Regions from separate parts of the Homo sapiens genome. Here region 1 is linked to region 2. The links come from fine-mapping of genetic effects on gene expression. A gene starts in region 2. The other region holds a variant in brackets. All regions are shown on one strand. Distances are from middle to middle.

What was found. PIP is the estimated chance that this variant, and not a neighbour inherited with it, causes the effect. A credible set is the group of variants that fine-mapping cannot tell apart.
Region 1: its variant is the best candidate, but not a certain one, in a credible set for the expression of C2orf80 in caudate (GTEx, PIP 0.63).

What each region holds. Positions count from the first base shown.
Region 1 is chr2:208,164,204-208,169,591 of GRCh38, forward strand. It overlaps C2orf80 (chromosome 2 open reading frame 80), which reads right to left. Exons shown (of 9, transcript NM_001099334.3): 9 at 1,144-1,612. The coding sequence ends at 1,604. Among named protein-coding and RNA genes, the nearest start is that of CRYGA, 3.3 kb to the left of the region's middle. The variant G/A (reference allele first, on the strand shown) is at 3,234.
Region 2 is chr2:208,186,908-208,192,295 of GRCh38, forward strand. C2orf80 (chromosome 2 open reading frame 80) reads right to left here and starts at 3,123. Exons shown (of 9, transcript NM_001099334.3): 1 at 3,046-3,123; 2 at 39-154. The coding sequence starts at 79.

The DNA.
Region 1 (5,388 bases), 23 kb before region 2:
TGCTGCTGTTTTCTTAATTTTCTATTATATCTGCCATCTTCAGCCAGACAGAAAAAAAAATTCGATTATAAATATAACAATTTCATGAGATGAAAAAATAATAAAATCAATCTTTAAATGTATGACTTTGAGGTGCTGGTGAAAAGCAGTAAATACTGGAAGCAGGTATATTTAATCAAGAGATTAAACACTTCTTGAGCTAAAAATAAAAAGAAACCCTGAGAATCTGTGAGAGGCTCGAAGAGCAGAAAAATACACAGGAACATTTCACTCCCCTCCCCCTGCCACCCTCCTTCTAGCATTGCTTTTATTTTTTAAAATTAGCGTGATGATTTGCCTGTGTTTTTCCTTTCAATAGTATCACTGTTTCATTGAACCCAAGTGACTGCCTAACAGCCTTCTCCATTGCTGCCAACTTATTGATTTAGAAGTACTCCTCAGATGTGCAAGTGTGGAGGAAGACTCCAAACCCCAGACTGTCTTTTGTCATTCCACATGTATGTAGGAAGATGAAATCAAACACCTTTGTGCTTTAGACCCACCGAGGGATTCTAAAAGAGTATTTGACCACAGCTAGCAACACATTCACAATGTCATTTGTGAAAATCCTCAGGCAGCATGTAAGGCAAACGCGCAGGTGGTAAAAGGAGAGACAGCAGTAGCTACCGAGAAAAAAATGTTTCCTCATAACTAGCAGAGCTAGGCAAAAGAAAACTGGGTGAAGTCCTATGAAGCTAAACACCTAGCAGTGCATGCAGGGACCGCAAGTTGCTGATTCCCTCCTTTGCCTCCCCCTAATTAGCTGCAGGCTTACTGGTAAATCTTAGAACCATAATCAAACCCAGTGTGGAAAACGCTGCATTGGTCTCCCAGCCCCACATGAGAATATACCACCATTTTCAGAAAAAGTCTACAATCTCCATCTGTGTTTTTGTACATGCTGATGAAAACTGTTCTGTAGACAGATGGCACACCAAAACCTTAAGAAATGTATTATGTGTACTGACATTCATGTGATCAAGTTGTTATTACATACATTGATAGGCTAAGCCATGTGCCTAATCAGCATTTTGGAAAGGTACTAAAAGACCAGAACATCTTCCCTCCTAGTAGTCATTATAGTCTACTGAGAGAAAGCCTGTATTCATTTTTTTAATGCTTTATTGAAATGATTTAAACATTCTTTTCATATGAGAACACAGTAAAGGCAATCAATGACAGATTAATTTTATTTTGGATTAACTCTTTGGAAATCTGCCTCCCACTCCATCACTGTGCAATATTCAATGCCACACATTTGTAAAATGTGCTACAAAGCCAGCTTGCTCTAACACAGAAATACTATATACTTTCTGAATTCTCCAGCAGTCTTCCAGTCACAATGAAGTAGCATAAGGTCACAGTTTTTTTTTTTAAGAAAATGTAGCCATGCAATATGCTTCTAAAAGAAGAAAGCTCAACATCAAAAATAACACTTCAGTGCAGTTGTACCAAAAACAGTTGTAAAGAAAAATGTACTGGCAAGAGCTGTGGTTTTAAGATGATGCTTCTCGTCTGCTCCCAGAGAATCTATTATGAAGTTCCATGGTACAATTCCAATTTTCTAAGTGACCTGCAGAATAAAAGATGATTTTGGTATCAAGCACATCAATTTAACATGGACACAGACATTACTTTAAGTCTATAGGAAGTTAAGGTCAAATATCAGATACTAACTTACTGACAAAGATAGATTAGATTAATGTAATTACAAAGGAATTTTCATGGAATTATTCTGATATATTTGGAAATTGAGTTATATTTCCCAACTAAATGCAATATGTGATCCCATACTGGATCTTATACAGAAGGAAAAAAATGCTTAAAAAGAACATTATTGGGTCAATTGACAAAATTGGTGTATAGAGAGTACATTAAATAAAAGTACCAATAATAGATATTCTGAAGTTGATAACTATTCTATGGTTATTTAAGAGAATTACTTTGTTCTTAAGAAATACACACAGAGGTACATAGAGTAAAGTGGTAGAGTATATATACATAACTTCTAATGGCTCAGAAAAAAATTATATATCTTTATCTATATACAGAGAGACAAAGACAGAATATAATAAAGCTAACAGAACAAAACATTAACCATTCGTGACTGTATAAAAGGAATACGTGGGTTCTTTGTATATTATTCTTGCAAATTTTCTCTAAGTTTGAAATTATTTTTACATTAAAAAGTTATACTTCTCTTAACCAATCCTACCCAAAGCAAATCAGTTTTTGGCCTTTTAGCAGTTATGTATTATGCTTGTAGGATATTATTTTGAATTTCTGATGTATTGCTTTGGATTTAAATTTAAATTGTCCTCTCTCTATGTCTCATTTCCTTTCATGATAGCATGAATTTCTCATGAGTGGTGATGAAGAGAGCGATTATATTATTGCTTGCCACTGTCCTGACACTTTTTTTTTTTGAGACGGTGTCTCACTCTGTCACCCAGGCTGGAGTGCATGCAGTGGCGGGATCTCGGCTCACTGCAAGCTCCGCCTCCTGGGTTCATGCCATTCTCCTGCCTCAGCCTCCAAGTAGCTGGGACTACAGGCGCCACCACGCCCAACTAATTTTTTCTATTTTTTAGTAGAGATGGGGTTTCACCATGTTAGCCAGGATGGTCTTGATCTCCTGACCTCGTGATCCGCCCGCCTCGGCTTCCCAAAGTGCTGGGATTACAGGCGTGAGCCACCATGCCTGGCCTGTCCTGACACTTTTCTAAGCCTTTACACATATAACTTATTTAATGCTTATAACAACCCTATGAGGTAGGTACTATTATGACTTTTTAAAGAGATGAAAAACTAAAAGCACAGAGAGATTAGGTAACTCACTCAAGTTATTAAGTGGGTAGCCTGGATTCAAGAAGTATGCTGTATTCTAGCTCTTTAGTATGGTCGTGTTCATTCCAAATTTACTTCCTAGTAATGTGCCCACTACTGACGCTTTCCTAGGACAATGCAATTTAAAAAAAAAATCTTTAAAACTGTTTCCTAGCCGGGCGCGGTGGCTCATGCCTGTAATTCCAGCACTTTGGGAGGCTGAGGTGGGTGGATCACGAGGTCAGGAGTTCAAGACCAGGCTGACCAACATGGTGAAACCTCATCTTTACTAAAAATACAAAAATTAGCCAGGTGTGGTGGTGCACACCTGTAATCCCAGCTACTCAGGAGACTGAGACAGGAGAATC[G/A]CTTAAACCCGGGAAGCAGAGGTTGCAGTGAGCCGAGATAACACCACTGCACTCCAGCCTGGGCAACAAAGCAAGACTCTGTCTCAAAAAAAACAAAAAACAAACAAACAAAAAACTGTTTCCCAGAACACTGAGGGTTTTGTTTGTTTGTTTGTTCTGAGACAGAGTCTCGCTCTGTTGCCCAGGCTGGAGTGCGCTGGTGCAATCTCGGCTTAGTACAACCTCTGCCTCCTGGGTTCAAGCAATTCTCATGCCTCAGTCTCCCTAGTAGCTGGGATTATAGGCGTGCACCACCACACCCAGCTAATTTTTGTATTTTTAGTAGAGATGGGGTTTGCCATGTTGTTCAGGCTGGTCTTGAATGCCTGACCTCAAGTAATCTGCTCTCCTTGGCCTCCCAAAGTGCTGGAATTATAGGCATGAGCCATCGTGCCTGGCTGTGATTTTTTTTTTTTTAATAATTTCCTCTTTTCTCTTACTCTATGAAGAAATTCGGTGGCTGGAAATAAATAAAAAATTCTGAATAAGGCATTGTTTTATCTTGAGGTTAAAAAAATTGTTCTTCAGCTAAAAGACATATAATATCTGCAAGCCAAAAAGGAAAAACAGTAAGCTCAAATATTTAAAATGAAAATCTTCTTCAAATACCAAGCTGTGAAAGCATGTTTTTCATCCATTTAATAAAATACTTATTCCTTTAATATAGAAAGAATTCTAACAAACCAGTGAGACATACATATATGTATGTTTATATGTATATGTGTAGCAAATAATTAAATACCATAAGAAATATTAACAGTGGTTATTTCTGAAAAGTGGGACAGGGGTGTGAAGAAGAGGGAGTTCTTTTGCTTTTCATTTTATATTTTTTGTCTGGCTTGAAAATTTTACTTATAAGTGTGTACACTATTAAAATTTTTAAAACTAGTTTAAAAGATACATTACCCAAGAGTTGGGCCGGGCGCGGTGGCTCAAGCCTGTAATCCCAGCGCTTTGGGAGGCCAAGGCGGGCAGATCGCGAGGTCAGGAGATCGAGACCACGGTGAAACCCCGTCTCTACTAAAAATACAAAAAATTAGCCGGGCGTGGTGGCGGGCGCCTGTAGTCCCAGCTACTCGGGAGGCTGAGGCAGGAGAATGGCGTGAACCCGGGAGGCGGAGCTTGCAGTGAGCCAAGATTGCGCCACTGCACTCCAGCCTGGGCGACAGAGCAAGACTCCGTCTCAAAAAAAAAAAAAAAAAAGAGTTGGAAAAAATGCCTAAAGTGCACAAATAATAAAGTGTGAAAGAAAAAACACAAACGAGTTTTCTGTCGCTTGATTATTAAGAAAGGGCTTTTCTGGAAGGGATTCATCTCAGGACCTGGGGCCCTACTAAAACATGGGCATTTGTTCTTTCGACACTCCTGGGCTCGCAAGCATCAATCAGCCTATAGAAAGGTCTGGTCCCCAGAACTGAGCCTTTGATCACTATAGACAGGGCACAGAGATTTGAGAACCGTCACCTAAGGACTATTCGCTTACTACCTACTGCCAATTCACTAAATAAAAATTGTTACTGAATCTCTGCTGCCTGCGAAGTACTTTATATACATGTGAGAAATACTAAGGAAATAAAAGATATGCTTCCATCAAGAATCAAAAAATCTTCATTGGTTGTGGAAGAAAATATATATGGAACAAAATTATATTTAAAAATAAGATACCAATGAGTAATCTTTAGAGGTAGGTTTTCCTTACATAGGGTCCATTGATGAGGCTTGCGGGGGGTGTCTATAAACCCCTGTTTCAGAGATCTTTTTGTGTGTGTGTGTGATTAAGTTTAAAGTCTAGATTGTGTGTGTGTGTGTGTGTGTGTGTGATTTTTGGAGTTGTTACTGTTTTTTCATTGTTGTTTTGTTTTGCTCTCTAAAACTTGCTGCTTCCAAACACGTATAAAAAATGACCTCATTTTTCAAATTCTTCAAAAAATTCTTCAGAAACAAAGATATGGTTCTAGAAAGTCTAATACCTTCGGCCGGGCACAGTGGCTCACGCCTGTAATCCCAGCACTTTGGGGGGCTGAGGCAGGAGTTTGAGACCAGCCTGGACAACATGGTGAAACCCCACCTCTACTGAAAATACAAAAATTAGCCGGGTGTGGTGGTGCATACCTGT
Region 2 (5,388 bases):
AAGTGTCATAAATGAAAGTTATTCTCAGTCATACTTACAAGAGCTTTTTCATTTCCTTCTTTATGAGCCTTCTTTCCATGTTAAAGGCTTAGCCAGCTGAGCAGGTATCTGCAGCTAACACTACACTTAGACCCAGCTTCTCTGAGTCTAGAGGCTACAGCAGCAAATCAGAGAGAATATGAGTTAGGGATGCTATCACTCCAAATACCAGTCATGGAGTCCTAGGCTCTGGAAGGGATCTGAGGGAGCACCTCATTCAGGCCTCTTACTCGGCAGGTTCAGGGTCAAAAAGCCACCTGGAGGCTCATGCACTGTACTTTTGTGTTTATTTGACACCTTTTATTCCTTCCAAATTTTTCCAACACTTATTTACTTAATTTACTCTTCCTTGCAATAATCTAGCAAGTAAAACCAAAATGGTTTGTGTAATAGCTGATGAGACTATTCGGGCAGAACCATCCAAACTAGATGGATGTGATCCATCTAGATCTGAATGTGTTTGGGTTTTTCTGTGAGCATTCAACTCCCAGTGAGTTCACCCTGGCTCAGTGGCTCATAATGGAGTTTTCCATAGAATCCATCTACACTCTCCTATTGCCAGGAGATCCTTGAAAGAAAATATGGTTATGGGAAATATGTCTTCAATTCCCACCCCCACATTGAACCAGAAATTGAAGATCAGGTGATGGGGTCAAAAGGAGTCTGAAGTCACCAAAAAGGAGTCTATAGAAAATCATCACTATTGAATGGGGTACACAGGGAGAGGTATAAATAGGGTATCAACTCTATTTGTGATGTTTTATTTATTTTTAAATTTATTTTATGGTTGGGCCTCTATGATCAAATAGTTGTTCAAACTTTATCCCGGATGTTTCTGGTGTTTTTTTTTTAATGAGATTATCATTTAAATCAGTGGACTTTGAAAGCAGATTGCCCTCTATCTGAGTGAGCCTTTTCCAATCAGTCGAAAGCCTTGATAGAACAAAAGACTGACCTCCCCCATGCAAGAAGGAATCTGCCAGTAGGCAGCCTTTGGATTCAAACTGCAACTCTTCCCTGAGTCTGCTGGCAGCTGGCCTCCTCTATCAGATTTTGGACTGGCCAAGACTCCACAATCATGTGAGCCAATTCTGTAAAATCAAAATATTTGAAAGAGATGGTTAAGCCTATACTGCACCGTGTGTGTGTGTGTGTGTGTGTGTGTGTGTGTGTGTGTGTGTATCCACACACATCCTGTCAGTTCAATTTCTCTGAGGAACCCTAATACTCAAATATAACAAAATGTTAATAGTTGTTGACTCTGGAATTCTAAGTCCATGGATGTTCATTATACTACCCTTTGTACTTTTAAAATTGTACGTATATTTAAATCACTACTCTAAAGATGATTGGAAAACAAACTTTAGAAACGGTTTTTTGAAAATGGTACCATATAAACACTAAGCTTCACTTGATTCAGCTCTACCAACAGTAAGCAGAGAGCCAACAGGATGGCGCTGATCTAAATGAATGCTTCCCTAGGCCACCTTCATTATTTTGGATTTTTTTTTTTTTTTTGAGACGGAGTCTCGGTCTGTCACCAGGCTGGAGTGCAGTGGCACAATTTCGGTTCACTGCAACCTCTGCCTCCTGGGTTCAAGTGATTCTCCTGCCTCAGCCTCCCAAGTAGCTGGGACTACAGGTGCACGCCACCAAGCCCAGCTAATTGTTTTGTACTTTTAGTAGAGACCGGGTGGTGTCATCATATTGGCCAGGATGGTCTCCATCTCCTGACCTTGTAATCCACCTGCCTCAGCCTCCCAAAGTGCTGGGATTACAGGCGTGAGCCACCGTGCCCAGCCATTTTGGATCATTCTTGCTGCTGCTACATCTGCTTTAGTTTTTGGGGAGTGGACGGGATGTGGATAAGATGAAAGTGGGGAAGAAAGTAAGAGCATTTCACAGGAAATTGATTAAGTATCAAGACAATAATATTGCTCCCTACAGAGTCAATGGGGAGAGGATGCAGCAAGCCATAGAGGTGGCCCTATTGCCTAGAGAAGAGAGAGCACTGGACCCAGGAAAGCCACACTCATTGATGTGGCTGTGCGTCTTCTGCTTCCCAGCCTCAGGTGTTATCCGAAAAAGATGGGCCTGGTTAACATTGCCAAGAGCACTTCTTACCCTAACATTCTGTAACTCTATAAAGTCTGGCATGCATTAAAATTCTTCTGATTCAATAGTTTGGAAAAACATTTGTTGCTAGACTATTTGGCCTATCTCAATTCCTTGGCAGGGAGTAAGGCACAGTTAGCATGTGCTTTAATCCATTCTTGTCTTGTAATTCTGAGAAAGCCCTTTGAGTTTCAGATTTACAAGTTATAATATTTGCATTGCTTCGTTGTTATGACAGCTTCGTCTTAGATCATCCCTCATCCTCCCCATCCCCTGCCCCCACCACCACCATTCAATATGGTATAATATGCAAAGGTTTCAGTCTTTAAAATATGAGTATGTCCCACTCCCAAACCACTAAACTGTAGGTCAGAAGACCCTGTGAGGCCACCAACTAGCTGTGCACCTTGAACAAATTAATTTGCCTATGTTTTTTCATTTCTTCCTCTGTAAAACAAGCGTTGAATGATTGGAGAGGTCCCTTACAGCTGTGGAAGTCAGTGATTTATATGCATTTAGTAGCTACGCCTGGTCTAAAGAAGGCCATTTGCATGGATTCTAATTCAGCTAGATTTGAATTCTGCCAGTTATCCCTCTTCTCTGTCTATAGAGCTCTAAAGAAAACAAGACCGCTGTGTGTTTTGTGTGTGGCTGAAAGCACACACAAAAGAGGTACTGGAAAGATGTCAGCTGTCTCAGGCTTTAGCTGTTTCATAGAAACAATTCCCTAGAAGTCAGAGCCCCCAAATTCTATAGGAATATCATTTCCTGGAGAATATCTGCACATTCCATGCAGGTTCCCTGCTGCACACCTGCAATCGTGGTACAGGTCTCTCGGGCTGTTCTATTAAGTGCCTGCTCTTAACAAATTCCCCTTTGAGAATCGCTCACCAACCGGAGACCGGTTCCAGTGCTTTTGTTCTTTCTCTGCTTCTGGAGGCATGCTGAAGCATCCGCGCATCTCAGACTGGTGCTCACAGACATCAGGAACACATGCTTTTTCCTGGTTGCTAGGAAACAGTGAATGAATTAAAATCATTTGTTTTAAAAATACACTCCCCTACGCCCACCCCCATTAAGGGTTGAGGGAGGGTGGAAAGTCATATATTTGGGACAGGATTGTGATCCTGGCCTGAAGTTCACGTGTCTTTTTACCTGAGTAGGCTTATGTTTCCCATCTAAATGATTAATTGAAAAACCAAGAGGATGGGAGGAGTTTACCTTCCCCAGAGTTTTTTATAGCATTTGGCTGCAGACATAGGAATCAATTGACTAAGCAAGGATTGCTGGGGAAGCTAGTGAAACTCTGGCTCCTACATAGTTAGGGTGCCCCAAAGTACCCAATGACCCAAAGATCATTCTACTCGATGAATGTCAATACAAAACAGTGGCAATCCTGAAGAAACATCACCTGGGTTCAAGCTAGCACCATCTTTCTAATTATAGATGAGATCCCTTTCATGTGCGTCTGTGTGAAGAGACCACCAAACAGGCTTTGTGTGAGCAACATGGCTGTTTATTTCAACTGGGTGCAGGCGGGCTGAGTCCGAAAAGAGAGTCAGCAAAGGGTGGTGGATTATCATTAGTTCTTATAGGTTTTGGGATAGGCGGTGGAGTTAGGAGCAATGTTTTGTGGGCAGGGGGTGGATCTCACAAACTACATGCTCAAGGGTGGGGAGAATTACAAAGAACCTTCTTAAAGGTGGGGGAGATTACAAAGTACCTGCTTAAGCGGGGGGAGATTACAAAGCACATTGATCAGTTAGGGTGGGGAAGAAACAAATCACAATGGTGGAATGTCATCACTTAAGACTATTTTTACTTCTTTTGTGGATCTTCAGTTACTTTAGGCCATCTGGATGTATATGTGCAAGTCACAGGGGATGTGATGGCTTGGCTTGGGCTCAGAGGCCTGACAATCCCTGCCCACACGCCTGCCTCCTAGTCTTAAACACTTGCTCCCTTGCTTAAAGCTTGTTAATGGTTTCTGTCTGTGTCTCCTCTATACCACTAGACTAGGGGCAGAGTTTGTTCTTCTGGCCCATCTACGGCTGGGTGTCTGTTATTGACACCTCTTAATCTTTATTTCCACTCCTTTCCACTGGCCAAGTAAGTCACTTGATTACCTGAGGTCATATTATGAAAGACACTAACAAAACCCTAGATATAGAATTTTCTAAACTAGTTGTTCACTCCATATTGAGTTTATATTGTACCTAGACACTTCCGGGTTTGGTGAGCCTGAAGTTTATACATTATGGGGACCGTCTTTAATAAAAAGAATGCAGAATTGTAAATATGAAACTAATACAAAATTGTATGTTTATTTAGAACTATTAATTACAAGTTACAAATTTTAAAGAGCTGAAAAATACCACAAACAAAAAATCAGTATTAATATTTTCATGATTACTAACTGCCTAACATACACTAAAATTCCTTTTTTTCTTACATACTCTTTGATTATCTGTTAATAGGACCAAGGTTTCATAGTATTTTCTATAGAGAGAATTAAAAAATAATTCAGTCTCTCCTCTACTATGACTGTTTACTTTTATTTATTTATTTATTTATTCATTTTTTTGAGATGGAGTTTTGCTCTTGTTGCCCAGGCTGGAGTGCAATGGTGTGATCTTGGCTCACCACAACCTCCGCCTCCCGGATTCAAGCGATTCTCCTGCCTCAGCCTCTGGAGTAGCTGGGATTACAGGCATGCGCCACCACGCCCGGCTAACTTTGTATTTTTAGTAGAGACAGGGTTTCTCCATGTTGATGAGGCTGGTCTTGAACTCCCGACCTCAGGTGATCTGCCCGCCTCGGCCTCCCAAAGTGCTGGGATTACAGGCGTGAGCCACCGCACCCAGACAATTTTTTATTTTTTAATTAATTTTTTTTTTTGTAGCAATGAGGTCTCACTATGTTGCCCTGGCTGGTCTCAAACTCCTGGGCTCAAATGATCCATCTGCCTTGGCCTCCCAAAGTGCTGGGATGACAGGCATAAGCCACCACGCCCAGCCATTTTCAATTTATTCTAATATTTTGTTTATAATTAAAACTAAACTGTAGGCTGGGTGTGGTAGCTCATGCCTGTCATCCCAGCACTTTAGGAAGCTGAGGTGGGTAGATTGCCTGAGCCTAAGAGTTCAAGATCAGACTGAGCAACATGGCAAAATCCTGTCTCTACAAAAAATGATAAAAACTAGCTGGGCATTGTGGTGTGTCCCTACAGTCCAA